Regions from separate parts of the Homo sapiens genome. Here region 2 is linked to region 1. The links come from fine-mapping of genetic effects on plasma protein levels. A gene starts in region 1. The other region holds a variant in brackets. All regions are shown on one strand. Distances are from middle to middle.

Region 1 (16,121 bases):
AGGCAGGAGGGTCCCTTGAGCCCAGGAGTTCAAAGCCAACCCGGACCACACGAAGAGACCGATCTCTAAAACAAAAGGTCCCCTGGACACTGCAGTCTTGGCTGTCTCGGGTCCTCTGTGCTGGCCATGCCCCTGGCAGGGCCTTCACCTCGTGGCTCCTCTCCCAAGTCGCTGCCCTCTGACGCCTTGCTCTACCACCCAGGGCCACTCCAGTTTCTTTCTAATTGGTCTGTTCATTTTTCTAGGAGTTACAACCTATAGGTAACTCATTTATTTTAATTTGAGACAGGTCTCACTCCGTCACCCAGGCTGGAGTACAGGAGAGTGATCACGGCTCACTGCAGCCTCAACCTCCTGGGCTCGAGTGATCTTCCCATCTCAGCCTCCTAAGTGGCTGGGGCCACAGGAGTGGGGATCTTGCTATGTTGCCCAGGCTGGTCTTGAACTCCTGGGCTCAAGTGATCCTCCCACCTTCCAAAGTACCGGGATTACAGGCGGGAGCCACTGCCCCGGCCACTTCCTTGTTTTATTTGTCTTCCTGTTGACTGTCTGCTACTCCCTCTAAAGCACAGGCTTCCTCAGGTGGGGACCTCCCTGCTTTGTTCCCTGCTGTTCCTCCAACAGATGAATTTCCAGCGCAAATTCATCCCGGAGCGTGAATTCACGCAGAGCCCCTGCACACACTGCAGGGCGAGGGAAGTCCAGCTCCATCCACCAGTCCGCAGGGGCAGCACCTCGACCTGCCTCAGTAGAGCTACGCTCCCAACACCACCACCCCACTCAGGGTCAGTCCTGGTGAAGGGGCATGCGGGCACCCCACGTCGCCTTTGTCTGTCCTTGAAAGAATGCCAGGCCGTGTGCTCAGGGAAGGCCGAGCAGATGAGGGAGAATTTCAGTTACACAGGCCTCCCTCAGCAGCTGAACAGGCGCCAGGAGTACCGGCAAGGACTCGGCAGATGGACGGTATTCATGGCAACACAAAAGATATGGTAGTCCATATTATCAAATCAAATACAAAACACGTAAAAGGCTTAGCTTCAGGGCACTGGCCTCATTCAACGGGTACCCTCCCCTTCTCCTGCTCTGCCCACCTGTCTAGCTCTGAACCTCTAAAGCAGAATGCAAATGGCCTGCTTTCATTGGGCCTCTGGGGTTAGAGCCAGCTGAGAGGCACAGGGTGTGGCAGGGGCGGGGGTGCCCAACCCAGCACAGCCAGGGGGTTCCAAAGGGAGGCAGAAATGAGACCGCAGGCCTATTCTCACTTCTGCTCAAGAGCCTGGCTATTTTAGGACTCCAGTCTTAAAAATACTTGGGAAATAATTAAGCTTCTATATATAGTAGATTAACATTTATTTCAAATGTGCTTGTCAAATAACTCTAATACTGAATCTAACAAGGTTAACTCTTTACTGCTTGTCACGTTCTAATGAAAAAGTCTACAGAAGTCTAATGTATAGTCCAGTATCAAATCGTTCTAGAAAATGATTACAGTAAAGATAAAACAATCTCCCAAGTTGAAAGGCAACTAGGGAGCTGTGTTTAAGGGACAGAGGTCCACTGCAGCCTCTCCTTCCTGAGTCAGGGCCATGCTGGGGTCTCGAACTCCGCATACCAGTCCCTGGAGAAGACCCTCTCTGGGTGGAGCCCCCTCTTGGCTGAGCAAAGGTCTTCTTAGCTAAGCTCCAAGTTCAAGGCACAAGTTTGGAATAACAGGCCTGGGTAGAAATGAAACCCACCTAGCGACCAGGAGAGCCTAACACAAATCACCTAGAAGTTGCCAAGGGCTGGTCTGAGAAAACCCGGGCACACGCTACGGTCGCCTCATCTGGGGACTGAGGGCAGGGCTGGGTCCCATGGACTCTTGATCCCCAGCATTTAACTCAATTCTGGTAAACCAAAACTACACGTTCTTCAGCCTCGAAGGGTGCTCCGAGGTGACAGCAATTCCAATGCTGTTTATCTGTTGGTAGGGAATGACAGTCCCTCAGCCCGTCCTCTGTCAGGGAAGCCCAAGCAGTGCTTATGACCTGGGTCACCCCATGGCACGACGACCGGCATGACACAGCGGAGACGGCTCCCTGGACGTGGCTGTAAGGCCCTCTTAGCAAACCATCCCGTCTTACTTCAACAACAAGTAAGTGGCCTGGGTCTCTCGGTGTAGTCTCAGACGCACCAACCACAGCCACTGGGGAGGCCAGCGGGGAGCCCGGCTGCTCCGATGCACCATCCTTTCTGTAAAATACTCATGTGGTCGCCACAGCGGGGCTACATTAAGCCATTTCTGGGCCCGTAAGGAGACAGGAGGCCTCCACTGCCCAACTCTTCCTCCTTCCACCCTCTCCATCCTCCCGAGTCCAGTGAGCACCTGGCAGCTCTCACGGGCCGTCAGCCCCGCCAAATGCCCGCTGACACCTGCATGTCCCCCTCCCTCTGGCCCTTATTGTTTCTTTTTCCAGTAAACGGACAATGAGCCTGTGGGGAACACCAAGTTCTAATTCATCTCCAAGAAGCCTGCAGCCTAGTCGAGTAGACAAGAAACCAGACCAAGTGGGACAGAGGAGCTGGCAGCAATCACAGAATGCCCTACCCTTCCTTCAAGAGATGTCGGATGTGTCCAGCTCCCAACCCCCACCTGTCCTCTACAAAGACACAGGAATGAACTGCCATGGCTCCAGGTCACCCACACCTGGACACCCATCCCGGCCTGTCACTCAGCTGCGTGACCGTGACTATCCCACGCAACCTCACGTGCTATCACCTGCAACATGAGCGCCCCCGCACTCCTGAGGACAGGTGTGGGAGGACTCGGCCTGTTCCACGCAACCTCATGTGCTATCATCTACAACATAAGCGTTCCCGCCCTCCTGAGGGCAGGTCTAGGAGGACTCAGCCTGTTGTGGGTGGTGGCCTGCCCTGTTTTCTCAGGCTGACCAAGTGAAGGAGATGGGAGGGAACAGGCACCAGGGCCACAGAGGGCGCACGGGGACACAGGCCCTGCCTTTAGGGTGCACCCTCTTGTCCACTCAAGACTGCAGAGGCATTTCGGAGATCTCACCGGTCAGACGGGCCAAAGTGTAGCCCCAGGCCCTGGTGCCTCATCTTCCATCACAAACCCAGCAACCATCACTGCCAGGCAGATCTTCAGGAACCCAACAAGGTTTTGTTCTGCAAAGTACTTAGAAGTGACAGGCTTAAGCCAAATCTCCACAAACACTAGAATGACACTTGGTCACACCAAACAGTACAACTTTTGTTTCTTAAGCCACCTTCTTATAAGAAAAAACATTTATTTTCCCAGCCTTGAAAAAGCCAGTCAAGAGCTAAAGTTCAATCCAAATTTCTGAGGAAAACAAAGGTGCCCTGGCCTGTCCTGCTCCTTCCAGCTGGAGGCTCCTGGGAAGCAGAGCCCACACCTAACCATCCTCTCCAGCAGCCACAGGCATGAAGAACGCAGGGCGTGGCGGGCGCTGGCCAGGGGGACCAGTGGGAGAAGGCGGCTGGACACTCTAGGTAGAAGTGGGGGCCCAAGCCATGGCCTGTGTGCCCCCAGGGGATCAGCAGGATGACCTAAGTCACAGGTGATTGATCAGGGCCACAGGTGACTGATCTGAGTCAGGTCAACAGGGACATAAGAAAACATGAGAATGTTGACAACGGGAATGCCTGCATGCAGCCAGACCCCTGCACTGCCACGGGCAATGGGCGCCCTATCCCTGTGGGACAGCTCCACGCAGGGATGACAGACAGGGAGCCAGGCGCCAAGCAGACAGTTCTGAGCTGGCAGGTCTGGGCTGGGGCTGTGGAGAAGCAGGCATTTCTAACAAGGCCCTAAGTGGCCCTACTTTGAGAGTCCCAGCCTTAGAACAGCTCCGGGGACTCCTCAGTGCCAAGGGCCTTTCATCCCTTTCTACCCGGACTCTACCTCCCACAAGCCTCATGGGCACAGCTTGGCTCTCAGGACTGTAAACCAAAAATAAAATCCTGAGTCCCCTAACTGACTGAATTGAACCCCCTCTTGGCCAAGGAGACCCCAGGGCAACCTGAGGAAAGAAATTCCAGGCCCTGACGGCAAGGGAGGTCAGACACGCCTGGTTACATCACCTCCCTTTGGAGTTTAGGCAGAGCTGACCAGCGTGATGAAACAGAGATCACAGACAGACAGCACAGCCTCAGCAGCAACGACACCAAACTCCAGCCTGACTCGGGTACAGCACCACATGACAAATAGCACACCCTGCAGGAAATCAAAATATTTCACCCCCAAATACATTTATTTCCCTGACATATTTGAAATGGTCCTGCAAAGCTGTCTTTTGTGAGGGAAATTTGCATCTGTAGAGAATCTCCCTCCCTTTCTAGGTCTTTCCTGGATCTAGGAGACATTTAACGAGTCTGACAGCATTCAGGTCTGAAAAGAGACATTTACCCTCTATTCTCCCCAAGGCTGCTGCCTGTGAGGCTTCATCTACTTAACCTTGGCCTCCACAGCCCCTTTAGCTTAACTCAAGCATTTCTCTTTGCTGACTTCAAGTCTTTAGACAAAGCTTAACTCTTTCAATCAATTGCCAGTCAGAATCCACCTATGATCTGTAAACCTACCCCTTCCTATACCTTACATGTACTGATTTATGTCTCTCTGCCTATAACTTCTGTCTCCCTAAAATGTATAAAATCAAATTAACGTGACTGCCTAGAGCACACTTTCTTAGGACCTCTTGACACTGTTCCCCTGGCCATGGCCACTACACTTATTGGCTCAGAACAAACCTCTTTCAGTATTTTATAGTTTGGCTTTTTAGCCAACAGGACCCTCTGCCTGGGCTCCCTGAAGCCCTCTCCCTGCTGCCTGGTCAGGTCACCGCTGTCTTTCACTTTCAGCCATATCCTCCTCCAGTCTCAGTCTCAGGCACAAGCCTGTTCTTCCTGTCGTGACTGGGAAGACAGTCAGCCTCACTAAAGGAGGCTTACTGAGTTGAGTTCATCACACCACTGGGTATGGACGTTACTGTGTGGCTCTCAGGAGGGGCCTTCCTTCTGAGCTCCAGGGACAGTTCTCAAGGCTGCCTATGTGCTGCTTCGGTTACAGAATTTGCAATATTTGAATCTGGTACGATCTTTAGACTTCAGCGACTCAACTGAAAAAAAAAAATCAAAACCAAAACCCACAAAAAAAGTGACCAAGTCCTGCCAGGGCCACCTGCATTTTAATGAACATATCTGTTTCTGCCACTGAATAACACACAAGAACTGAAGGGTTCCCTACGTGATTGAATTACTTGTTTGTTTTCCTAAAAGCAGTGTCTAAAAACCCCACTGAACAGTTTTTCTGTCCATCTCTTCCAGTCTCTGACCTCAGTTCTGAGTCAGGTCAACAGGGACATAAGAAAACATGAGATCAAAGAGGAGGAATCCATTAGAATCAAAAGGCCCCAGCTCTCTAAGAGGAGAATGCATTTTAAAGATAACCATTTACAGTAACATACAAAAGCCCTACTTAGACTTGAAAAAAAGTTTCTTTACAAATCTGTTTGCGATGAGAAAAATACAGCAGGATTGGGTGTAAGGCATAAAAACAAAGGTGCAGGAAGAAAGAGTAGCAATTTGTTACAGATCTTGCCCACTGAAACATGTAATTTGAGGTTAGCACAACACAGGAAGTCCTGCCAAACCTCACTGGGTCGGGAGGACCTCCTACTTCAGTGATTTAAATACCATTTTAAGGGAAGGGTGTTGTGAATGCCCCCTCCCACGCCAACTCTAACCTGTAGAGCAGGCGAGTAACTTCGTGACTGGTTAACAACGTGCGACCAGATGAAAGCACTAAACAATAAAGTGCGGAACACTACCAGCAGTTTGGTGAAAGATTTCTCAAAGGCTGTGCATCTGTGATCAAGGAGCCCACCAATGAAATTCTTTGTAGAGTTAAAAAAATTGCTTTATAGGTTGTTTTGGGGTATTATAGAGAAGTCTCCAGAGTATTTGGACTTCTAAGTTGTGGGTTCACTTTGAGCACCCACTATATGGCCAGCGATCCGAACCAGAAAGTTAATGATGAAGGTTCAAAGGGAATGGGGTGGCTACGAGTGTGGAATAGGAATGAGGGATCCTCAGAGAACAGGAATTCTGGGCACTGGGGATGGGGTGTGTGGACGCTAGGAAACAGGTAGGGTAGGAGGCCTGGAAGGTCAATGAAGTTCTTGGGGCTCAAAACATAGGTATTTTGAGAGCTGGGATACGGGAGGGCTTCCCTATCCCCAAGCGTGCGGTGAGGGCTGCGGGAGAATGGTTTCATTTTGACTTCAGACAGCCCAACTCGTCAGGATCTAACGGGGATTAACTGGGAGAGACATGGGGAGCAGCTGGCTTAGTCTCCCGCCCCTGGAAAGGCCAGGGTTGGTCCGAGTCGGGTGCCTCTGTGGGGCAGGGACTGGCTCTGCGGTAAGGAAAGAAATACGGGGGAGGGGCCCCGGGACCCGCCTTCTGGGGCGGTCGCAAGGGGTCCCGGAAGGCCGCGGTCCCGGGGGTCGGGGGGTCCCCGCGCGGGGGCGCGCCTCACCTCGCACATCCCCAGCCAGGGCCCGCCAAGTGGGCGCGTAGCCGATGCAGTGGCCACACCACGACGAGTAGAACTGCACGAGCCACGCGGCCGAGCTGTTGGCGGTGGCCCCGCGCACGCTGCCGCTGTCCAGCACCCACACGGCGTCCTCGCCCGCGCGGTACAGCCGCGCCGCACCGCCCGCGCCCGGCCCCACCGCCGCCGCCGCTAGCAGCACTAGCAGCCGCGGCAGCCGTGCGGCCCGCGGCGGGGGCGAGCGCCGGGCTCTCAGCGCAGGTCCCGCTCCGATTCCCGGGCTGCGCGCCACCGCCGCCCCGGCCGCCGCCATGTTGGAAGTGCCGCCGGCGCGCTGAACTTTCACCCTGGCAACCACCGTCACGTGCGCCGGCGCGCCCGGCCCCGCCCCCGCGCGCCCAGTTCTGTTCCGCCCCGCCCCCTCACGTCTGACCCCGCCCTCTCTCCCCGCCCCCGCCCCCGCCCATGCGTGGCAGCCCCGCCCCCAAGAGTCTGATGACGCCATCTCCCCGCCCAGGCGCGGCAGGCTCCGCCCAGGCCCCGCCCCACCCCGCCGCGCGTTCCCCAAACCCCTTCCCTGAACAGGGCCAGGTGGCCACATTTAGCAAATGGAAGTGCACGACGCCAGGTTCAACGTGAATTTCAGACAAACAGTGAGTCGGTTTTTCAGCCTAGGTCTGTGCCATGCCTGAAATACAAATTTAACAAGACATTCTTAGACGTAAAAAACTATTCCGGGGTTCTTTTACTTGGCAACCCCACCTGGGGCTTCAGAGGGTCTGCAAGCCAGCCTCGACTTTTTAATATGATATTGGAACGCTTAGAAAATGCAGCAAAACATCCACTCAAAGTCAGATGTGTTGTGTGCTACCTTTTAGGATGTTCCAGTCGAATGCAGCTTCACGGTTTGGAAATGAAATCATATGACTTTTTTGCTTCATTGAACAGGATACCTGATTTTTTTTTTTGTTCCTATTCCTAATTTTTACACATGTCAAGATTTTCTCTGAACTGTGTGACCAAAACAAAACAAGGGAGTGGGCGAGCCTGGGCAACATAGCGAGAGCCCATCTCTTAAAAAAAAGAAAAAAGCCGGGCATGGTGGTGCACACCTGTAGTCCCAGCTACTTGAGGGGCTAAGGTGGAGGATGGCTTGAGCCTGGGAGCTTGAGGCTGCAGTGAGCCGTGACTCTGCCACTGCACTCCAGCCTGGATGACAGAGCGAGACCTTGTCTCAAAATAAATAGATAACTGTATTGTGGGGTTCTGTGTAAGATTTTGTTTAAAAGGTTTTGCTGCTAACAATGGTTAACCCCAGATGAGAGGATTCTCCCCAGAGGGCCCCTGGCCAAGGCGTCTGCTCCCTTTTCCTCACGTCCTGCGTCTCCCTGTTCATGTTTCCTTCCATCACCCACGTTTCCTGGCTTCTGCTCTGTGCCAAGCCCTGGAGACAAATCAAGAACAAAACCGAGCCCCCAGTGTCCCTGGCCTGCATTTGGGCAGACCCCAAACAAACCAACGCGTAAAGCAGCCACCGCGTGCTATGAAAAGCAATGAAGCCGGACACGGAAGCAGGTGCCAGCAGGGCTGCCGTACAGAGGAGGGTGGGGAGGTCTTTGAGAAGGTGACCCGAATGGAGAAGGAGGTGAGGGAGGAGGCACACATGCAAAGGCCCTGGGGCAGAAGGGTGCTGAGCACGCTGGAGGAACAGCAAGGAGCCGGACCTGGTGGGAGCGGAGCAAGCTGGGGGAAGCGTGGGAGGGAAGAAAAGCTGAGAGCCCGAGCGAGACCCAGGGGGCCTCACAACCTGGGCCGCAGACTCAGACTTTGATGCTGAATGGGGGGGTGGCCACGGAAGGATCGGTGCAAGGATGCAGCTCTGCCCTTCTAGTTGCAGAGTAGGAGGGGCAGGAGGGGAAGCAGGGGACCTGGGAGGGGCCGCCGCCTCCTTCCACAAGCTGGAGGGACTCCGGGGAGGGGTGAGAGGCAGTGCTGGTGGAGGGGTCGGCTGAGTCTGGGTGGAGGCAGAGGGTGTCACATTCGCAGAGTTTGGGCCAAAGCAACCAGAGGAATGGGGTTGCTTACGGCTGAGACTAAATCCTGCAGCGGCGAGATGGGAGAGCTATGCTGGGGAGGATGCCATGAGTTTGCTTTGGACCTGTTACATCTGAGCAGCCTTTTCAACCTCTAAGGGAGGTGTCAGGTCAGGGTTTAGAAGTGGGAGTCGAGTCTGGAGCTCAGCGCTTGAGGCTGCTTGAGGTCCCCCGGGGAGGCTGTGGGACAGAGGGGAGGGCCACACACTGAGCCCCAGGCCTCCAGAAGGAGCAGCAGCGAGGTGGCAGGGGAACAAGGAGTGGAGGAAAGGAGGCTGATCTGGCTGAGACAGAGGACGTCATGAGCCCAACTGGAGGGGCACATTCGGAACATCGGGGCAACACCTCACCCCAAACCTGCTCGGTGAAACGGAGCCACCCCTGGGACCAAGCTTAGCCCAGCACTTAGAGGCCACACCCCAAAACAACCAGAGTTTCTCCCATCTAAGGCAGGGCGGGGGAGGGGAAGGGGTTAGGATTGAATCTCGGAGTCTACGTAAGAGCTGTCTGTGCTGAGCCAGATCCTGCCCAAAGCCTGCGTGAAATCTGCCCCCCACCCCACCTGCAGGAGAGGCATCGCACGTCGCTGTGGCAAAGGCCAGGTGACTGCAGGCGCGGTTAGCGTGCGTGCCGCGGAGCGAGAAAACACGCGGCCAGTGGCCATTTTCAGATGCCCTGACAGAGACAGCTCTGGCTTCAAAGAGATCAAAATGCGGGGAGATCACATCTCAGACATGATGAGATAAGGCACTGTGCAGGCTGAGGCAGCAGCATCTTGGACCTAATCTGCTGTGTTGGATCCTGATGAGCCTGATTCCGGGAAGGCCTCCAAGATTTCCAGTTGATCTGTTGTTCCCTGTGTAGAGCAGGTACTTGCCGTAAATCCCACCCTTAGGGCACAAAGCCTTGATGCTGTCTGCTTCAGGTTTCTGCACGTTCCTTCTAAACCAGCCTCCCCTATGGCAGATAAGCCCTGGGCCTGGGGGTGGTGGCGGGATCCCGTCTGTCGGTGCCTCCAGAGACACAGATGTGGCTTCCATTTGTAAGTCCCTACTAAATGTTTCTTCCTGAGAAACTGGACTTGTCAGCCTCTTTCTTCTGCCTCTCAGCCTCCTCCATCTTTGGGGCAGGTTTGCAGAGGCCTACCCATCGTGGAACAGGTATTGATATTCCTGTTTTACAGAGGGAGAAACTGAGGCTCAGAGGGCTGACTACTGTGTGAGGTGAAGGGCACATGGCATGTATGTGACAGAGAGGAGGGCCTCAGGCCCACGTGCCTCCCAGAACCCAGGAGGGCCCACTCTGATGCTTGCATTGGAGACAAAGACAGAACCCAGCTCTGAGCCGCCTCCCTTTCCACATGGGGAGAGCAGAGATGAGGCCCAATGGATTTCAATGGCCCCGGCTCCAGGACTTGCCCTGCTGTCCACGTCTCCCCCTTTAGCAGGAGTTTGGCATGGAGGGCTCAGCTGCTTAACGACCACCACCCATTTTGGGAAAACTTCTGAGGAAAAATTCTGCACACCTGTGCCAGCCCCTGAGCACTGGCGACGTGCCCGGGACAGTGCCTGAGGGAACAATTCTTCATGTCCTCACTAGGACACCATGAGGAGGTGGGTGGCCACCCTCCAGGGACTGTGGACATGGAGGCACGTCTGGGGGCAGGGGCTCCTGCCAGACCCCTAGGGAGAGGTGGAGCAGGGCCCAGGCAGCCTCAGAGCCCGAGCTGGCTCCCAGCACCAGTGTGGTTGGTGCTGTATCGGCTACAGCCTGATGGACATGGTGAGTGGCGGGCAGGAGAAGGGCGGCTGGGAGCCCCGGGGCAGGGCCAGGGCCAGGGGGTGTGTGTGATCCCATCCTCCGCTCCCAGCTCTGATGCTGCCATGCGGGGACAGGGCACCATGGGATGGCTGTGGGACCTGCCAACACTCTTCCAGGACCCCAAAGCTGCCTGGGGAGCTGGGAAAAGGACGGCTTGTGAGCCTGGCTTTGCTGGGCATGAACGGGCCAAGCTCGACCCTGGGGACAGAGAAAATGACCCGCAGGGACCCTGCTCCGCCTGGGCAGTGAGTGAGCTCTCCCAGCGCCCTGGGTGCCTGGAGGCTTTGCTTCCCAGGAAAGTGTGCGGCCGCCACCTTTCATAAAGGGCCCCCGGCCTTCATGCGTGTTTTATGAGGGTGGCCGTGATGGCCACGCAGGGCAGGGAATCAAAGGGACTCGTAAAGTTTGTCTGATGATTTGGGACTCGGAGCACTGCGGACACGTTCATGGGCATTTTATGCAGGAGGGAACCGTTAAGCAGGGAAGCTGAAAGAGACAGATCACGGGAAAATTAAATGTAGGGTTTAACTGAGAAATAATCATTTTCTATGAAAGATAATGACTTCTCTGGAGGCTGGTATCAAGATTTATTGGCCCAAGCGGTGACGACAGATCAGAGCCCAGGCAAATACAGCAGGAGACCTTGAAGGGGAGGAACCTTGGATTACCATCTTGCCCGGTCAATATATCTGAATGCCAAAGCCCTCCGCTCTGTATATGTCCTGTTGGGAGATTAAATGCGTTTACACCTCTGCTGAAGCGGCTTTTTCTCCGGTGCTCAGAGTAACCTGACGGCTCCGGCCCCCTCCAGGGCCGCTGTCCTTGGAAGCCCTGGCCCGGGTTTTCCTTCGTTCCTCACGACCAGCCCCCTTCAAGGGCACCCTACCACCTGCCAGCGACGCGAGGCACCTGCTGGGCTCCCAGGGAAAGTCACGCTGGTTCCAGCTGTGACTGCAGCCGCCACCGCATTGCGCCGCACGTCAGCACCAACCACGTGGCAGCGAGCCTGGGAGCCATCAGATTCGCTGCAAATCTGCGGGGCTTCAGTGGTGGAGATTTATCGTCATGCCAGATGCGTGTGTGTGAGATACATAATTCCTCTCACACGGCCTCATAAATCCAAAAGGGTCAGCAATAAATGGAAAAAAATAAAAAATCACAGACTAATTTGTTCAGAAGACTAGAAGGGGATCAATGAGAAAGCTGTAGCTCAGCTCAAAGTTTGTTCTGAAATTGGGAGCATGGAGCAGGAACACATTCCCCACTGGATCCAAACATCTGCATTCTCAGGTGGGCTGGGCAGGAGCTGGTGCAAAATCAGATGCATGGCCCGAGCTGGGCTTCCTGTGCACATGGTGAATGGGGACCCTGACACAGGCCGGCCATTGTTAACGGCACCTGGGGCTAAGCAGCCGCCCCGGGGCTGGAGAAGGCAGGCTGGGTCCAGCTGCTCCCGGGCGAGGGGTGTCTGGAGAGGGGCTCTTGCCTCACGGCAGGGGGCCCAAAGAGGTTCTAAGGGGCCTGGGGTCTCTCACCAGAGCTATGGGGTAGAGGGCCTTGGCAGCTCCGTGTGTCCTGTGACCTGGCATCTTAGGGCTTTGCCACGCCAGCTTTGTGATGCCTCCCACCAGACTGCATGCATAAAGTCTGGAGTATGCTCCTCTCTGAAGTGGAGGAGGCCTGAGGCCCTGGACAGGAGAAGCCACATCCTGGAAGGATCAGTGCTGGGACACAGATGTCCCTAAGGCCAACACGCTGCTCATCAACTCCGCATTCAAGAAGAGACCCTCAGATTCAAAAGGGTCCCAGAGAAATTACAGGGGTCCCAGTGAATCCTCTGGAAGCAAAGAAAAGTCCATGGCACCAGGAGAAATCAGCTGCCCTGGCCTTCCAGGCACAGCAAGTCCTGAGCATGCTCCAGAAGAGACCTTGGGCCACTGATCCCCAGAGGAAAAGCCCCCGGCCGTGCGGGCTGCGCAGAAATGACCTTGGGCCCTTGAGCCGTGGCTTCCTCTGGTCTGTGCAGCTCAGGTGTGAGACATCCATGCCCAGTCCACCCAGCTGCACGTCATGTGCCGGCAGTTTGGGTGTGGGAGGAGCCTCCAAAGTCAAAGCAGGCAGATGCCCCTGACTTCTAAGCAGGGCTCAGGGGTGTGAGTCAGCACCAGTCAGGCCCACCCCAGCTCTTCTTTTCCCCAGATGTTCTCTCTTCCTCTCTTGGCCTTCGCTGATCCCCATGACCCCCTTCCTGGCATAGGCGCTGCTCCGCCCCGTCCTCGTTCCTGCTCTTGGCGACTCTGACTGTTCTTGCCTCTGGGCTGCAACGCCTTTTCTTGGACGCCTCTTCGTGGCTTTGATGCGAAGAAGCAGGTGTGCAGTCCGGGCCTGGCTTCAGGTGACCGTCCCGCGGAGCCGGCGCCCACCCTGTCCACCGGGGGAAGAGCCGGCCACCCACCCGGTCCACCCCGGGAAGGTCCAGGCGACCGTCCCGCGGAGCCGGCCGCCCACCTGGTCCACCCTGGGAAGAGCCGGCCGCCCACCCAGTCCACCCCGGGAAGGTCCAGGCGACCGTCCCGCGGAGCCGGCCGCCCACCTGGTCCACCCTGGGAAGAGCCGGCCGCCCACCCAGTCCACCCTGGGAAGGTCCAGGCAACCATCCCGCACAGCCGGCCGCCCACCCCGTCCACCAGGGGAAGGTCCAGGCGACCGTCCCGCAGAGCCGGCGCCCACCCTGTCCACCAGGGGAAGAGCCGGCCGCCCACCCGGTCCACCCCGGGAAGAGCCGGCCGCCCACCCGGCCCACCCTGGGAAGAGCCGGCCGCCCACCCAGTCCACCCCGGGAAGGTCCAGGCGACCGTCCTGCGGAGCCGGCCGCCCACCTGGTCCACCCTGGGAAGAGCCGGCCGCCCACCCAGTCCACCCTGGGAAGGTCCAGGCGACCATCCCGCACAGCCGGCCGCCCACCCCGTCCACCAGGGGAAGGTCCAGGCAACCGTCCCGCACAGCCGGCCGCCCACCCTGTCCACCGGGGGAAGGTCCAGGCAACCGTCCCGCACAGCCGGCCGCCCACCCGGTCCACCCTGGGAAGGTCCAGGCGACCATCCTGCACAGCCGGCCGCCCACCCGGTCCACCGGGGAAAGGTCCAGGAGACTGTCCCGCACAGCCGGCCGCCCGGCCGGTCCACCCTGGGAAAGTCCAGGCCTCTAGGTTCTTACTCCCACGTGTGCATGTGTATGCCACACACAGCTCACAATGACATTGTGGACGCCTGTGCACCTCTGTAGTTCCAGAAAACACTCCCTAGGGGCTGCACCTGGGGGCCTGTGTGGAGAGAGCTGCTAAGGAGTCACGCAGGACCCTCCTGGTGAGCCACGTGGAGACCAAGTCCACTGCCTGGTCTCTCTCCACACCTGGGAGATGGGTACAGCGGCCTGAGTCTGTCTCCAGGAGCGGCTTTCTGCCCAGTGAGCCCTCGGGCCTGGGTGGGTCCTCTACCTGGCAGCTCAGGCCTCCCTCAACGTCCTCACCAGCATGCTCAAGGGACCCAGACTTTCCACTGGCGGCCAAGGGCACTTGGCCTGGGAGAGAGGCTGCCGGGGCTGCCAACCAGGGACATGGAGGTGTGGCTGCCTGTGGGGGTGTGGCTGCCTTCCTGTTCTTACCCAGCATTTCTTTGGGGTCTTGGCCCCTGGTGGGGGTCTTGGCCAAGCAGGCTCGGCTGCCCAGGGACCCTGCCGCAGGTGAGGCAGTGTCCAGGAGCTCATCCAGACCCACTAAGAGCTGCCCCGCTACCCACCCCGGCTCTCTGCATGCCCAGAGCTCTGCGCTCCTTCCCAGGGCTCTCCCCGACTGCCCAAGACCTCCTCAAAGGCCACATCAGCCCAGAACCCTGTGCCCAAAACAGGAGCCCAGTCCGCCGATCATCACTTCCACGTCACCAGCTGCCAACAGCCCTGACAGACCTTCCCTGGCCACAGAGGCCACTCTGGATGGAGCTGGGGGCTGCACTGATGGCCCTGGGAGCCCTCCAGGGGCACTGCCTGACCCCTCACACGACGAGTGCCCTGGCCAGCTGACAGGTTCAGGCCACTGGCTGCCTCCGGCCTCATCCCCTGCTGCAGAACTGCATCTACCCAACTGGTCGTCAACGCTTCCACCCGGACCAGCCACCCCTGGGCAGAGCCCCAACTACTGGGTTCCCGCCGACCCCTGGGGCCCAGGAAACAGTCCCTCCGGCAGACTCTCCTCAGACAAGGAGGACAAATCCTGGGTGGTGATGGCGGTGTCCTCCTCAAGGGGCCCCGAGGGCGGGGAAGGGAAGGCATCCGAGCATGGGTTGGTGTCTTCACCATCACTCTGTGCTTGGGGAGTGGGAGGAGGTGGGGGTAGGGGGGCCTCCCTGTGGATGGAGGACGGGAGGTCGGCACTGCCGTAGGACAGCAACTCGTCCACGGGAGACAGGATCTCAGTCAAGACGTCACCGGCAAGTAGGGGACAGGCTTCCTCCAGGACAGTGGGGGCCCCATTCCCACCAGGCCCAGGCGCCCGGCTCTCAGCTACTGGAGGTGCCAGCCTGCCTGGGTCCCCAGGAGGAGCCTGCAGGGTCACCGGGGTCTCGGGCTCTGGCATGAGGTACGGGAGTTTGCTCTTGGTGGATGGGCTCGGGTCAGCATCCCGGGTTCCCTCCTGGTAGCCAGAAGTCTCTCCTCCTTTGCCGAAATCTGCCCCTTCACTCAAAGAGGTCCACGAAGGAAAGACCAGCAGTGAGTCCGAGTCACCGGCAGAAGAGATTTGCAGCGGGAACACCACACCGGCGGCCTCAGGGGGTGCCTGGAGGGCTTCTCCTGTGTCTGACACCCCCATCAGGCTCTCGCTGGTCCCAGAAGCTTCCAGCCCCTCCCCAGGCCATGGGGACGGAAGAGCCACCTGGGGCTCCATGCCGCTTCTGACACCCCCTTTCAGGCTCTCGCTGGTCCCAGAAGCTTCCCGCCCCTCCCCGGACCGTGGGGAGGGAGGAGCCACCTGGGGCTCCACGCCGCTTCCAAGGCCCAGTGAGCCACCTGCAGGCAGGGAGCTCCCCGAGGCTGGCTTGGCCCCGGTACAGGGTTCTGGCAGGTCCTCCTCGCAGTCCTCCTCCCAAACTTTGCTGGAGGCCTCTGACAGCTCTGACCCTGACCTTGGAGAGGGGATGTCTGGGAAAGGCAGTAGCCAGCCTGCCTTTGGGCTTTGCTCCGGCGCTGAAACTTCTGCCATGGCCGTGTCCAAGGAGGAGCCACGCAGGGGGCCGGCCCTGCGGCCCTGGGGCCTCTGCCAGGTCACCCATCCTCCACCCCCAGGAGCACTGCCTGGCCGAGGCTCACCCTGGTTTGACCGCCAGGACAAAGGCAGGCCAGCTTCCCCCGAGGAGTGTCGGGCAGAGAGCTCTCCAGGCCAGCTGAAACCTTCGTCTGGGGAGTCTTCAGCTTCCAAGCTGGGAAGAGAGCTGGAGCTCCCAGAAAGCTGGATCAGGGTAGCCGCTGCTTTCTGGAACTCCCAGAGAGAGGGACAGGACAGGCTGCTCACAGAGCCTGCTGGGGAGGTGTGGGATGACACCGTGGCTTCTTCCGAAGGCCCCCAGCAGGTTCCAGAAGCAGAC
Region 2 (16,121 bases), 30 kb before region 1:
TTCTCCTCTTCCTCACCCCTGGCCAGGGTTCCTCCTTCACTGGAATCCCCCTGGTCTGCGGAATACGTGTCTAAGAGGTTGTCGCGGCCATAGTGCTGCTTCAAGAATGTGAGCACGTGGCCTTCATCCCAGCTGGCCAGGCCCTTAATTTCCTCATGGCAGGCTGGGCAGAGGTCCGGAGTGGGCCACTGAAGCTTTGGAAACCGGGGATCCTCACTCAGATGGCCTAGGAAGAAAAGGAAGCGGGAGAGCCAGAGGGAAGGAGGCTTTGTGCAGCCACGTGCAGCGTGCGGCAACCGGACTCCCACTCCCACCCACCACGGGCCTCCACTGCCCTGGCCCAGGGTCCTGCCAGGCCTCCCTCCCTGCCCTTCCCACCACCCGTCCCTTGCAGTTCGGCCCAGATAACATCCTGCTTCTGCAGGCCCCTGCGCACGTGTTCCCCTCTGCCGGTTCCCATAGCCTGCAAGTGAGGAGACGCTACACGCTCGGCCTCCGCCACTTCCCAGACCACACCTGTCCCAAACCACCCAGCACTCCACTTCCAAAACGGAGCATGCAGCTCTCACCTGGAGGCCTTTCTCCGCACAGTGCTGCCTGTGTGCCCCTCCCCCCACTGCTGCCCCTCTGCCCTTTCCTGAGGGTGCACCTGAGGCCCACTACCTACAGAGCCCCGGCCACCTGGGTGCTATGGACAGTGGGCCTTAGGTGCACCTTCAGGAAAGGGCAGAGGGGCAGCAATGAATTTCCACTGCACTTCAGGTACACTGGCCCTTTCCGGACTACAAATCCCTTCAAGATCTCCAAAACTCGTTTCTGAAGTGACATGTGCTCACTTCCAGGCCCAACAGGCATCCGTCATGCAGAAGCTGCGGCGCACGGCGCCTCCTAGCTCTCGGAGCCCCTGCGACCCGACTTGCTGACACCTGGCCACCCTCACAGAGCTTCCAGAAGTGAATGTAAACACAACCACGTTTGTCTGGGGGACTTGAGACGTGCCTGAAATCAAGAGATGCCCTACTCGGGCCAGTCACTGACTGCGTGCTTATCCGGCCAACCGGCAGCAGGTGCTGCACACGAAGCCAGAGGGGACAAGCACAGACCAGTGGCACCTTGGTCAGAAGCTGCCAGAGCTTCATGTAGGACTGTCAAATAAGGCGCCAGCCCTGGGCAGAAGACCCCAGGCACATCTCCGAGGGGCCTCCCAGGAGCTTGGGTCTCAATGCACAGGCTGGAGGTGGGACTGGAGTGGGAATCTCAGGAGTGACAATCACACTGGGCTGTAAGGCCCCTTTCTGTTGCAGTCTCATGACTGGGGTAGTGGGGGCACATGCGGGCTGGGGCCACAGGTAGCAGCAGGGGCTCCAGGTCCAGGCAGGCCTGGCGAGGGTCCTGGTCCCACTGCCTCAGAGCCGAGGGCTCGGGGAAAGCACAGGGAGCTCTGTGGGCGGCGGCGATGCAGAGGCTGCCAGGGCGGAGAGACGGAGAAGCTGCGCTGACCGAGGGAACAAACCCCGCAGACACACAGCGCCTTCGTCACATGACCCCGGCCCCGGCAGTCAGGCTCAGGGCAAAGAAAAACCAATTTCTTTAGTGCTTCAGCTGTAATATGTTTTTCTAACACAGTGGATTAAATAAAAACCAATAGTTTAGTGGCATTTTCTATTCATCTCTATTAAGATTTCTCAGTGGAATTATTTTTAAGCCTAATTTTAATCTGCCACTGATTTAGGAACAGTTTGAAGTACTTAACTCTGAGAAAATACATGTGCCCTATTTAATTATTTTTTTTTAACAAAACAAAGCACTTTGAGAGGTTTGGTTTACGTTTGGACAACAGATTTCCATACTACTAAAATTCCTCATCAAAAATTAATTACGTTCCAAGCTTTCCAGAGTCAAAAACATCTTCAGAGTCTAACGGGCTACCAGTGGGTACCGATGGGGGAAGAAAGAGCCACACCCATTTCCACGGGGTCGAAGAGCCCCCGGAGTGAGAGAAGCATCTAGAAAGCCGGGGACAGAAGCAGCCTGGGAAAGGCTGCAGCTCTGGCAGCTCTCAGCCACCCAAGTCCTGATCCCGTCAGCACAGTGGGTGGCACGAGGCCGCAAAGCTCAGGGACAAGCCCCACGGCAGCCGTGCCGTCCTTGCTGTCCCAGGACCAGGGCCTCCCTCCGCCCGTGCTGAGCCCCCCATGCCCAGGGGCTTCTCACCTGCCAGGCGGCCGTTCACCATATTATGCTTCTTCCACAGCCAGAGGATGGCTTGGTCTGGGGTTTTCACCGAGTCCATGGATTCTTTAGCCATTTCCTCAAAGTGCTCACCACATTCCTTACACCCAAAGAAGGTGTGAACGTACCTCCTCATTGTCTGCAGCACAGCCTGGGGGTCGTCTTCAAAGCCTGCAGGGGAAGAAACACTGCTGACAACGGCAGGTGCGTGGGCATCACCTGACCCCACGCTTGTCCAGAGAGCCTGGGGGGAAACCGCTCCTGACATGTCGGGAAGCCACCTCATGTCTCCCCAGGGGCCTCAGGCTGTGGGCACAGACCAGAAGCCAGCACCTGCCAAGATGTCCAACACGCCCACGGGTGCTGCAGGCTCTGGAGACACAATGACTGTGGACAGCCCAGAGGGCGGACATGCTCCCCAGATGCCCTGGTGCCAGGAGGATGAGCCACGGACTCGGCCGCCAGGGCCCAAAGGAGCCCTTCCAGGGGCGCCTCCCACCTCCCACCAGTCTTCCAGCCGTCTGTGCCAGAACGCCCGGAGTGCCGCTCTTCCCCGGGATTTGCCAGCTGGGTGCAGTCTCTCTTGCCTTACAAGCAACTCTCAGGGGCTGGTACCAGGGCAATGACTCTGCTCATTCTAAACCTGCAGCTGTCGCGTTTGAAAGCCCTGCAGGACACCAGCCCAAGTGGGGACACGGCCTTAGGAAGTGACTCTTAAGCTGCCGCCAGCCACGGGCGTGAGGATGTGGAGCAGGTGGGCAGGCACAGGGACGGGTGCACCCACAGCCAGAGTTTGTGCCACCGAACGTATTAACAGACATGGACAGGCCGGGGCGCTTCCGCAGATACTGTGAATGAACAACACACATCTCAAGAAAGCAACACCTGCCCACAGGTGGCAGGAAGCAGCCAGCACCGCAACCAAGGGGAACCCCTGAGAAAACCAAGGGGGCAGCATGGGGCGGGGCTCGGCAGTCCCCACTCAGACGACTGACACAGGAGCTTGAACGCACAGATAGGAGACCCATGAGATTAAAACAGATTACATGTCAGCATTAAAAAAAGACATGCTTTCGCGAATGAATCCGTCTTCATCGACAGCAGGCCCTGGGGGAGCTTCCCGCGTGAGTGCAGGCCTGACGCTTGTCGTGGCTCCCTGCAAAACACAGCTGCGTGCAGGCCCTGACCTCAGCGTCCTGGTCGGTCCCAAATCCCGACACTTCTTGTTTATTTCACCCAGAAAGGTGAGAGCAGAGCAGAGCAGACCACCTCCTCCTCAGCCTTGAGCGTGTCCACGGGCAGCTGGGCGGTGTCTCAGATGGGACCGCAGGCGCTGGCCCTGTGACCCGGCCCGTCTGCCCTGCTCTCCTGCCGGGAGGGCTCCACAGACATCTGCCTTGCATCTCCACGTAATCCCCCTCCTCTTCCCCACATCACCGCAGGCGCGGGGCCACCCTAATCTTTAAAGTGGACAAGAACCATAAACCTCTACCTGTGGGAGGATTAGAGGCCTTCACAGGCATTTTACTAGATAGGGCTTAAACATACAGTAAAGAGAAGAAAAACCTTCCAAGACTTAATCCCGTGGTCGCCTCTGACCCAATTCTCTTGGCAGGAGGCTACTCCTGGAGGCTGCTTCCAATATGCTGATGGGCGGAAGGAGCGCTGAGGGTCTTGCTAGCAGTGTGCTTTGCCATCACACTGCTCTTACAATTCCACTACACTAGGGCTGGTCCTAGAAGAGTTTAAAATCAAATACCCCGGTCACTCAACTTCTCCCCTTGGCCAACACTGTACCCACACTGCCTTCAAGGAGCCGTTCCTCATGCCTGCGTGTGCCCGTGTGATCAGAGCAGACGGAAAGGGGGATGGCATGTCAGCTCATCTCCTCACCAGAACTTTCCATGTGTAAACGTGAGGTTTCCTAACTCAGGCTCACGCTTCAGAAGCAGTTTTGTTGTGTTTTTTTTTTTTTTTTTTTTTTGAGACAGTCTTGCTGTTGCCCAGGCTGGAGTGCAGTGGCATGATCTTGGCTCACTGCAACCTCCAGTGCTGGGATTACAGGTGTGAGCCTTGTGCACAGCTCAGAATCAGATTTACATGGTCTGGCTGGGCATTCGGTCGGAATCAGGTTTGCATGGTCTAGCTGGGCATTAGATCAGGCAGTGTGGATGCTGTGATTTCAATTTCTGTTTGGACAGCTCCCAAGGTTTCTCCCCAAAAACATACTACTCTTTTTTTCTGTATGATTATGAAAAGGATTTGAGGTTAAAACCCACCCTCTCCCCCAACCAGACCCCCGAGAAGCAGTAATCCAATATCACCTTGAGGAGGGCCAAAACAGATTTTCAGAAGGCCACTATAGTGCCCCCATCCCGGGACACTCTCCCATTAACAGGTGGAATCTATTTCTCTCACCACGAATTTAGGCTGGGTCAACAGGATGCGGCAGAAGTAATAATATGTGACTCCACACTGAGGTGGACTCTCAGGGGGTCCTGCCTGAACCTGGTGCTACTTGGTGGGGAAGCCACGTTCAGGAGTACGAGGCATTCCAAGGTCCCCTGGACTGACCAGCTGCCACCAGACGAAGGCAGACACACACGAGTGAGCCCAAGCAGCAACTCACAGAAGAACCGCCCAGCCGAGCCCAGCCCAAACTGCTGATCCACAGCATGATAAGCAAACAGTGGTGGCTGCTTTAAGCCCCAGCATTTTAGGTTAGTTTGTTATGTGGCAAAAAATAACCGTAAAGGAATTTGAGAATCTTACTGGAAAGAGCGTTGAACTGTGTGAGTCAAGACTCCACTTCGGCTTTGAAGTAAACATTAATGAACCTGAATTACTGCTTCAACTGGGAAGCACACACACAACAAAATTCAGGGGGGATAAAAAATCCAATACATACTTTAGTGTTCTGTGAAGGACAGAAAATTTGTTTTTATCTATTTCCTAGTAATTGAAAATTATTAAATCCAACTTCGAAGTTTTATAGGTTTTAACCCCTTGTGGTGGGCAGCCTCTGCGACGGTCCCCACAGATCACACCACCTATACTCACGCCTCCTGTAATGTCCTCCCCTTGCGAGTGGCCTGGGCCTGGGGACTGACTAGTAAGCAGAATCTGACAGAGGTGATGGAATATCATCCTCGGATAGGCACCCTCTCACTGGCTTGCTGATGAGGCTTGCTGCCATGATGTGAGCCGCCCGATGGAGAGGCCCTGAGCGTGGCCTGCAGTCAACAGCCAGCATGGAGCTCAGGGCCTTAGGCAAGCCACGTGCAAGGAGGCAGGCCCTGCTCTCTGCCCCATGAGGGTGCTGGGAAGCCACTCTCCCCAGGTGGGCCTTGGGTGACCCCCCAGGCCCAGCTGACACTCCGACTGCAGCCTGACCAATCCTGAAGAAGAGGACCCAGATGAGGCCATGCCCGGCCCTCAGAAACCATGAGCTCATAACCGTGCGTGGTTCCCGTGGTTCTGGCTGCTAAATTTTGGGGTGATTTGTTATACAACAGCTGATAATGAGAACACCTCTCCAAACAGATTTCACTTATTCTGTCTTTTTAAAGCAAAAAACAGGGAGTTTACACTGCAGGGAAACTCCCAGCCAGCACTCTTTCTTCTTTATGGTTTATTTCCTGCACGTTAGCCATGCACATCCTTGCGAGTTCTGACAAGGGGAACTCGTGCCCCCGCAGCCACAGCCCTGGGTGAGCTGACCGTGTGAGAGGAGTCTGAAGTGCCATTCCCCTGCCTCAGTGGCCTGGCGACATGCTGCCTCCCATACAGCAGTACATGCCTTTGCACACACCGGCTGGGTTAACTTGTTAGGCAGACCATCGGCCCCTCTGGCCTGTATGGGCACAGCTTACCTGTGCCAACCAGTGCATCTGGGTGGGTCGAGGCTTCAACAGTCAAAGTGTGGAACAGTTTCCAGAGAGAACACGGGTAACCCCTCAACTCAGATCGGCTTCCTTGACATCCAACCCACTTTATGTGATTAGTAAGGAATATTCCAGAAATCTGAAAAACAAACAAACAAAAAAACCCCAAAGAATAAAAGATAATTGTTGAAATTAAAAACAGTCGACAGCTGCCTTCTTGACTGGGGGGGGTGGATAATGGGGGTGTGGTTTACTGAAGCTGTATCAACTGTACACATAAGATCTGTGCCTCCTACCATATGCAAATTTAAATTCAATAAAACAAAAGAGAGGAAATGGTCTCCTTTACTAAAGGAGCTCTCAAGCCAATCTCTGAAGAGACAGTTCTTCTGTATCTTGATAAACCAGTAATATTAAGCATAAAATGTATCCACCTTTTCTTTTAAATTAGAATTAGTTGTAAGGACAGTATTAAGAGAAAAGGCAACTAACAACAGAAAAAAGCTCAACTGTCAAATAATTCTTGGCCAGAACAAACAAGGTGTGTTCACTTTGAAAAAGCAATAGGGTGGCCATCAGAGTGGGTGACTGCTGGACTGGGAGGGCTGAGAGCCCCAGGCAGATTCCGCTGGGTTTGGTTTCGTGTCTCATCAACCTTTTCCTCCCTAAGGACTCCTGAGCCCAGGACGTGCTCTCGAGGGAGATGTCACACGTCGCAGTCACGTGAGAGTGCTCCCATGACCTCGAGCTCGGAGTAGAGTCAAGGTGGAAGACAGACTCAGGCAAGAAGCCCGGCACCGTCTGCTTCTCAGCTGCAGCCAGCAAATGACAAAGCTGGCAAAATCACGGCACGACAAGTGCACCTTACAGGATTCCCAGAAGATCTGCTGTGTGCACTGACCACGCGGGCGTCGGACAAGCAGCACGCTGGGTTTACTGCCCGCGAGTAAACACTCTGGGGGCCACAGAGAAGCTGCTGATCTGGACTAAGGAGGGAATGGCAGGACGGAGTGCCAGGACCTCTTGGGGTGCTGGTCCCCTGAGCAAAGACTGGCACCTGCTGGCACCTGGTCTTGGGGAAAGCTCTGGAAAGGCTGCCACACTTACTGAATACATCAGTTTTCGTCAGATTGGCTTACTAAAAATTTAAAAAGCCCAACTACTACGTTGCTTGAGAAAACCCCATTTTGTCCAAAGGACAGGTGGTCACAGTGCACTTTTGGTGAGCTGTCCTTAAACTGAAGTCCCAGCATGACGCTGCCAAGGCAGACAGGAGGCCATGGCCATGATGCTGTCGTGGAGACAGTAAGTC[A/G]CTGCTCCCCTTCCTCACAGCGGAGCCCGGGCCCCGAGCAGGGAGATGCACCAGCTAAGGGCAAGGGAAGGAAGGCGAGGGAAGGAGGGTGCAGCGTGGCTGGCGAGGGTTCTGGGGCTCACCCGCATCTTGTTGTTGACCAGGTCAAGCACGGCGTTGTAGGGGATCCTGTCCAGGGGAAGGCTGGCCAGCCACTCCTGCAGCATCTCCAACAGCTTCTTGACTGGCGGCCGTCCAGGGAACAGCTGCATGAGGAAGGAGCCACCTGAGAGCTACAGACCCAAACCCGGGCCCGCCCCCACCGCGGGGGGCACCGCACCTCCAAAGAGAAGCACTCCATCCGCAGAGGGGCTGAACCTAGGATGGGGCCTCTCATAACTCGGGTTTCTCTGATGGGAGGCAGGAAACCCAAGGGGCCATGGGGTGGGCATCTAGCCTGCGCCTCTCCCCAGGACAGCCTGTGCCCACGGCCATGCCTTTCTCCAGCCCGTGCCTGCAGCTCACCCACCTGCGCCCACGGCCTCGCTCCGGCCAGGTGACAGGCAAGGTCACGGTGTGTGACTCATCATGGAGCTGGCGGGGGCTTGCTGATTTATTCTGCCTTCCTCACGAGGAGCTGTGCTGACCCCGCCTGCCCGCCCGCTGGGCTTCCCCTCTGCCGTCACTGACTGTATGAAGGGCGCGCGGCAGTGCACATGCGCCGGCAGCCGGGGCTAACTGCCTATGGGCTTGTGTGGGCCGTGAGGCTGGCCGACATCAACACAGCTTGGGGAGGCGTCTGGCTGAGAAGATCCCAGGGCTCTGTCTTTTTAGGAGAAACTCTGATCAGCTGCTGCACCACAAACTGTGCAAAACATAGGCTGCCGAAAGAGCTCCGAAAACCCGAGCTGAAATCTCACGGGTGGCAATGCCAGACCAGAAACACCAGCCACCAAAAGAGTTCCTCAAACCCGAGCTGAAGCTCACAGGTGGCGATGCCAGACCAGAAACGCCGGCATCTTCAGCTCAGTCCAATATATTTTCTCCCGTGCAGGTTAAAAAGTACCATGATTAATTTACCAGAATCAAATTTATTTTAGACATCCAAGTAAACTTCAGAAAAATATTAAGAATAACTTATTAATACCCTGGCCTCAGGAGTTGCCCAGAGCACAAGTGTAAAAGCTCCAAGCCTAACTAGACTAAGGGGAAGACGGAGAAGCCGGGAGAGGAGAGCAGGTCTGCCTAGCGACAGCTGTGCGACTCCAGCGAATTAGCTGGCCGGCGGCCACCACCACTAAGAGCCACACTGTCCTCCACTAATATGATGGACAGATTAGCAGGACACTTTCTTAAAGGAAATGAGGCCAGCTAGAGATTTCTGAACTCTGGATGGCACCGTGGGGGAAAAAGCTGCCTGGGCAATGTTCATGCATTCATCTGAGGCACCTCCAGTCCTTCAAGATTTCCTGTACTTTTCACAAATCACTTTGTAAGTAAACTCTATCCAAAGTGCTCACTATAAATTATTCTATCATGCATCTTATTTTTGGCAAGATAAATATTTTAAGCCTAAGCCTTCTTGTCATTTAGACAGTAACAAGCAACCGAGCTCATGGAGTTACACCTGGCCACCTCCCTGGCTGGTCCTCTTCAGCCTGACCCTGGGCACGGCCAGGCCTGAGCTCTGTTGGGTGGCATCTCTGCCCGCTCCTGGCGACCCCCTCAGTGGTCTCAGACACCACATCTGTGCTGGTGATGGTGCTGAGCGTGAAGCTCCCAGGACCCCTCCCTGAACCTGGCTGGTGGGGCAGATGCACACCCCACCTGGATCTGCACAGCCCTTGCCTCTCCCTCTCTCTCTCCCCCCAGCCCCCGTGCAGCGCTCCTCTGAGAGCCAGCTGAGGTGTGTGTGGGCCTCCGCTCCCTCCTCCATCTACTCTCCAGGCAGCCAGAGCTGGGCTTTTCCAGCAGGTGCTCGGCTCACACCCCCGCCCCTCTCTACACCCACCGCCCCAGCCCCAGTGCTGGGAACAGCAGTGGACGCAGGAGGCACTCGGGAAATGGGTGGAATGAGTTGGGGCGTGGGCCTGGGCGACAAAGCAAGGTGGAGAGCACCTCAGCGGAGCTGGCGGAGCCCCCGCAGTGTCCGACGCCCCCCAGGGCCCACTCTGTGCAGAGCCAAATTCCCACATGCAGCCCAGACCAGCACCGTCCCAAACCTTGGCCAAGACAGTCACAAAGTCCTTGAGCGTCTTCAGCTCTGCTCCGGCCAGGGACTTGTGGGCTGCCAGCTCCACCCGCAGGAGGTAGTGTAGCCCTGACTCCAGGTCCACCGTGTACAGCTTCGACCTAGGACGGGATATGGCAGCGTCAGGGAATGCCCAACCTTTCCCTCCACAGCAAGTCTCCCTGTCCTGGCTCCTCCCCACGGACTCCCAGGGCCCCTGGGAGGGCTCCTGAGCGGCCCTCACTGGCTGGGGTGGGTTTCTGAGTAAACCCGCCCTGCAAGCACGCAGCCTTCGGTCTACACGCACTGTCTCCGGGGGCTTCAGTTCAAGAGGAACACTTGCTTGTCAAATTCTCTCCAAACCACGATTTCTGAATTTTCTTCTTTGTGTGGCTTTTCAGGCAAGGGAAGCGATTTTTTCCTCACATCCGGCAATGACTTCAAATAAGACGAAAAGAAGGCCCGCAGAGGCTTCACGCTGTGAGAGAGGGGAGGGCAAAGGTGAGAAGAGCCTCCTTTATAAAATCCTAAAGTAGGAGCCGTGGCATTCAGGACAGCTCTGGGCCACCCCTTTCATCCTTTGGGCATTTATTGGGGCATGGGAGTCAGTGGGAACAGCTGACACCCCGCCTGGGCTCCGGCTGCGCTTCCACCTGGGGGATAAGAGGAGACACACCAAATCCACAGATTTACAACCAGTTCCAGTTGTAATAAGTACTATGACTCATTTATGTTTGTGGGGACCTTAAGGCGTTTTGTAAAGCTGGGTTGAGCATCTGCCAAGATGAGCTTTATTCTGACTGCGATTTCCAACACGCCTAAGAGCCTTCACCGACGCGCCCACAATCTGCCAGCCCTGAGTGAGGCATCTGGAAGTCGGGGCCTGGGGTGGACGTCAGCCCCTCCCTGATGTCAGGCCCCTGAGCTCCCTGCGTGCCCACCCTGTGTGGACAGGGTGGAGCTGAGCCCCCTGTGTGCCCACGCTGTGTGGACAGGGTGGAGCTGCCTTCTGAGGACACCCTCAATGCCATTATTGAGCACTTCAGTGTGACGTGGAGCTTGTTTCCAAAGACAGAATGTAGCAGTGCTATTTGCAAAAACATTAAAATATCTATAAAAATATTAACATTATTTGACACTAAGAAGTTGTCTAGATGATACTTTTAACACTAAACAAACATCTGGGAGTGGTTCAGGCCGCTCTGCCAAGTGCAGTGCTGTGCCCCAGGCCTGGAATGGGCCACCTCGTTGGCAGAGCCAGGCCCCCAAGCACTCAGAGCATCTCCCAACAAGCTCAATGGCCTCTGTGGTTACCCTGAATTCCAGCTTTATCTTTTGTATTTTCACTCATTTATCTATTTTTGAGACAGGATCTTTCTCTGTTGCCCAGGCTGGAGTGCAGTGGTGCAATTTCAGCTCACTGCAGCCTCAACCTCCTGGGCTCAAATGATCCTCCCACCTCAGCCCCTTGAGTAGATGTAGCCACAGACATACTCCACCACGCCCGGCTAATGTTTTATTTGTCATAGGCTGGAGTCTCACTATCAACCTGGGCTGGTCTCAGACTCCTGGGCTCAAGTAATCCTCTCATCTCAGCCTCTGAAAGTGCTGGGATTACAGGTGTGAGCCTGGCCTCTTTTTCAAAAGGAAAGAAAAATACTTAAGAAACTGCGGTGTTCTGGGCTTCTGTAAGGCGCCCTCTATGCCCCAGTCGATCTTTGAGGAGGCTGAACTGGAAGCCCCAAGAGACAGGAAACACGTCCTATCTTCTCACTGCTGTGTCCCTGCACCTCGGAGCCCGGCGTGGTGAGTCACCAAGAGCCGCAGAGTCAACCGTGGCTAAACCAGCACATGCTGGAAGCCTGCAGGTGCTGCAACTTCAGGCCAGGGGAAGGGGCCACCCAGTGTAGGGCAGGCTAGCCTCACGCTGTCCTTCTCCTCACGCTGTCCTTCTCCCCAAGGTGAGGAGGAGCGGGGCCCCTCCAGCCTCAGGACGTTACTTAACTTTCTCAACCATTTTTCATTTTCTTTCTTTTTTTTTTGAGATGGAGTCTGACTCTGTCGCCCAGGCTGGAGTGCGGTGACAGGATCTCAGCTCATTGCAGCCTTGACCTTTGAGGCTCAAGTGATCCTCCCACCTCAGCCTCCTGAGTAGCTGGGACTACAGTGGCACACCACCAGACCTGGCTAGTCTTTTTTTTAGTATAGATGGGGTCTTACTATGTTGCCCAGGCTGGTCTGGAACTCCTAGACTCAAATGATTCACCTGTGCCCAGCCTCATTTTTCTCACTGTTCTTTTTCTAACCTGATTCAAGTTGTTTACTTTTTCATTGGGCTTATCCGAGGGGCACACAGGCACTCCACGCAGAGGCAAAGGGCTTATCCTCATGAGGGGCACACAGGCACTCCACACAGAGGCAAAGGGCTTATCCTCATGAGGGGCACACAGGCACTCCACGCAGGGGCGAAGGGCTTATCCTCATGAGGGGCACACGGGCACCCCACGCAGGGGCAAAGGGCTTATCCTCATGAGGGGCACACAGGCACCCCACGCAGGGGCGAAGGGCTTATCCTCATGAGGGGCACACGGGCACCCCACGCAGAGGCAAAGGGCTTGCCAAGGTTCTGCAGTTCTTAGAGAAAGAGCAGAACGTGAGGGGCAGGGCCTGGTGCCCACCCCTACTTCTCATTCTGCAGAGGTGGGCACGTGGGCTTGTCTGCCAGCCCCAGACACAGACCCAAACTGCATCCCAAGAGTCCACCCAGAGCAGGGTTTTAGGAGCATCGGCTGCTCCCAAAGCCCCGGCCCAGCAGCCCTCATGCATGTGCTGGTTTAGCCACGGTTTCCTCTGCGACTCTTGGTAAGTCACCACGCCAGGCTCCTCCTAGGTGCGGGGACACAGCAGTGAGAAAACAGAAATCCACGAAAACACAGCACAGATCAGCAATACCCACGGGCTGAGAGCCAGGGCCCAAATCTGCCCAGGGAAGCGAGGCGGAGGGGCCAGGGCTCCCCCGATCTCACACCAGACTTGCACTGTCTACTCGGAGCCTCTGTCCGGTAACTCCGAGCGGCACGGAGTTCCCAGACCCCACCCGGGCACTCACACGTTAATCAATCCATGCGACCCATTTGGGTAGATCAGGTAACACGAAGGGACTGAAGAAACACCAAGTTTCTCCAGAAATGCTTTGTCCCCGTCCAGTGCTCGGGTCACCACGATGCTTTCATACGGGATCAGGTCTAAGATCACCTGGGGGATGAGAACACAATGACACTTCCACAGGGGCTGGCAGTTTCTCAGAAAACACGACGTGCAGACACATGGCCTTGCAGGGAACCTTTCACAAAAGGGCATGAAGTCTGTCCCCCTGCAGGCAAGACCCTCACTCAAATCTTCACTCTCATTGCACTTTAAGGCAACTGACGGCACACACGCCATGAGCAGAAACCACGGTCTTATTCGGCAATTTTACAAACTCATCAAAGAAAACACTTATCCGCGAATTTGCACTTGACTTTCTAAAACCAGCGCGCCCCCCACAACACTGATACTGGTCAAGTGAGTCCCTGCACACAGCAGCCACACCCCACGGCCTCGCACTCCCGTCCCGCGTGTGGAAGCTTCGTGGCCGGGGCAGCAGGCCTCGTGCTGCCGCTCCTCCCCAGCCACCCTGCTCCTGTCTGGTTCTGCTCAGGCTGAAGGGGCAGCAACAGGGTCTCCGTGGCAGAGAGACCACAGGAGTGGCATCTCAGGATTTTGGAAGAAACCCTGCGTGCGCCACCACCACATCGGGCGTACGTCTTTCCTTCTCTTAACAGAGGAACAAAACCAGCTGCTCCTCAAACCAAGGGCCCTGGCTAAAGGTGTGAACTGGGCGCCCCGCGTGGCCGTGCCTCTCCTGAGCTGGGTGTGTCTGCGAAGAGCTGATCGCTACTCTGGGGCCACACTGGTCTCTGCTCTGGGCCATGCCGTGACTCTGTGCTGAAGAGCACTCCTCCTGCACGAGTGGAGCCTGGCTGCCCCGAACGCACCAGCATGCCAGGCAGGTAGGGGAGCGTGCCCGGCACCAAGACGGTCCCACACCCGCCTCTTCTCAGGGGAACACCTGCCTCTGGTCTGCGTGTGTGGAGGCCCCGCCCGAGACAGCAAGGGCACGAGGGGCCTTGGGACAGGGGTGAGGGGTCTGGGAGAGCCACACACTGCTAGCGGTTCCTCAGCCCTCCACAGAGAATCCTGGCCAACCATCTGGAGGCAGCCTGGCGTCACCATCAAACCTGGAGGGGGCGGTGCTGGGGTGCCAGGAGGGCAGCCAGGGCACAAAGCGAGACGGTCACAGTGCAGGTGTCTGCAGCTGCCTTCCCAAGTGCGTCTCCAAAAGCCCTCGCAGGGGCAAAGCTGTTTCCTACATTCACCGCAAGGCCCCTCACAGTGGACAGAAAAACAGTCGCCTATCAAGTTGCAAGGAGGAGGAGGAGAAGCTCAGGGTGAGTGCTGGGCGAACGCATGTGCAGTGAGGCCTTTCTCTCGTCTCCGGGAAGACTGTCAGCAATAATGACTCTCCGTGAGCTGCCCCTGCACCTGGTCCCTGGACCTTATTTAGACTTGGCCAGAAGCAAGGCTTCAGAACTGTACGTGTGAAATCAAAGTATGACGATAGAAACGACGTTTTACAGAATCTTGGATTTGGCAAAAATGTTGAGAGTTCAGAATACGGCAACGAAAAAAATCTTAGTAATAATGCATACAAAATACAGAATGACCTCAAGGTGAGCTGGGCGTGTCATAAAAATGAGATCTTCTGCAAAGCCCCCTCTTAGTTTCAAACCTAGGGTTAGGCCACCTTCTGAACCCCTCCCACCGCCAAGCTCATTCATCCTAACAGTCTTCTCCAGACACCAGTGACTTTGCTGAGTAACATTAACTAAGCTTCTGATAATGAACAAGACCTAAAGCCACAGACAGGACACGAGATGCCGACACAGTGACCGGCACCTGCAAATCTCATCACAGATCCACCGCCAACCCCAATCACACCACGTGTGACACCTGGAGCCCACGCAGAGGCCGTACCTCCCGTCCAAGGTAGGAGCTGTTGCTTTCAAAGACAATAGCCACGTAATGGCTGCCACGGTTGTCAAGAAGGGAAAGAACATCACTGGGCCTTTCAAGAGGAAAAAAAGAGGCTTTTAGTGCCGTCAACAGCAGCGAGTTGGCCACCACATCCCAGTGGCCACATCACTTAATAGAAACCTATTACGTTTCTTGCACAGTTCAACACGAGTCTAACGGCCGCCTTCTTCATGGAGCTACTCACTGAATGGGGTCTAGGCGCGGGCAGGCAGGGGGCCGGCTTCCTTCCGTGTGGTTCTGCAGGAAGTCAATCATCGTCTGTCTGACTGTTCGCAGCTCTCGGTCAGGTCCTGCCGGAAGCACACCAGGGTCAGAGCTGTGTGTGCGGCTGTCCTCGTGGGGCAGGCATACACCCAGGGACAGCAGCCCCGTCCCAGCCTGGGGCCCAAAGACAGCAGGGTGCAGGTGGCAGCAACATGTGCAATCCCAATGGGTGTGCCCAATGCCACCCACAGGCGTGGTACAGACAGCGCTGGATTCACACAACTGGAGACCACACAGCAATGACACAAGCATGGGTGGGCCACAGGGACAGGCAACAGAGGCAGATGGCAAGACACGGCACTGCGAGGAGCAGGCCAGGCGGCTCCACTGGGTCACTCACAGGCAGAGCCCCCCCAGGGCGCGGCGAGGAGCAGGCCAGGCAGCTCCACCGGGTCCCTCACAGGCAGAGCCCCCCAGGGTGTGGCCTGCGGGGTCTGATCACACTCTGGGCGATGCTCGGCTGGGTGGGATCATTTGTAAAAATTCATCGGGTGGGTACATGTGATCTGTGCACATCTCCAAATATTTTTACAATAAAAAATTTACTCTGAAAAAGTTTTTACTACAATATTTGCCAAGCAAGGCAAAGCACAAAATTAAAATTTCTCTTTGAAACTATTAATATCTGAACTCTTAAGGGAAAGCAGGCAGGAAGGTCAGCAGAGGGAAAGGTGCTGACCCAGGCTGGGAGCTCCCCAGGCTCTGGGACCGTGTGTCTTTAGCAGGTTTATGAGGGGAATCTCAGGGACTAAAATACAATGCTTATGTCCTTACCTTTAAAATTTTCTCCAGTTGTAAACTCCTTTGTAAATGCTTTAAAATACTAAGAGGAAAAACACAGAACAAGTAAGAGGCAGCCTTCCATGGGCATCTGCATGTGTTTAAGCAACAAAACGCCCGTCACCTTAGAGGGAGCTTTACTCAATTTCCTTCGGAAAGTTTTCATAAATTAATGACAAACCACACGCTTCTCCTTGTCTTTGTGCATATTAATGTTTCCTGTCAGATTTACGAGGGGGCTAAGGTTAGCTCCAATCAGCATTCCCATCATTTACATTTTCTGACCCAACAGGGCTAGAAGCAA

What was found. PIP is the chance, under the fine-mapping model, that this variant and not a neighbour inherited with it causes the effect. Protein levels are from the aptamer-based SomaScan assay of Sun 2018.
Region 2: its variant is fine-mapped to the plasma level of the QSOX2 protein (Sun 2018, PIP 0.95).

Annotation. Positions count from the first base shown.
Region 1 is chr9:136,238,920-136,255,040 of GRCh38, forward strand. It overlaps QSOX2 (quiescin sulfhydryl oxidase 2), which reads right to left and starts at 6,893. Exons shown (of 12, transcript NM_181701.4): 1 at 6,557-6,893. The coding sequence starts at 6,884. It overlaps CCDC187 (coiled-coil domain containing 187), which reads right to left. Exons shown (of 26, transcript NM_001378188.1): 26 at 11,054-16,121. The coding sequence ends at 14,675. RefSeq lists enhancers at 294-822, 8,928-9,782 and silencers at 1,038-1,167, 6,421-6,830, 6,861-7,130.
Region 2 is chr9:136,209,050-136,225,170 of GRCh38, forward strand. QSOX2 (quiescin sulfhydryl oxidase 2) reads right to left here. Exons shown (of 12, transcript NM_181701.4): 3 at 15,812-15,860; 4 at 14,958-15,063; 5 at 14,714-14,804; 6 at 12,747-12,892; 7 at 9,981-10,115; 8 at 9,630-9,759; 9 at 7,551-7,673; 10 at 6,105-6,255; 11 at 2,215-2,403; 12 at 1-226. Among named protein-coding and RNA genes, the nearest start is that of LHX3, 12 kb to the left of the region's middle. RefSeq lists enhancers at 1-487, 2,385-3,161, 6,958-7,461. The variant A/G (reference allele first, on the strand shown) is at 7,429.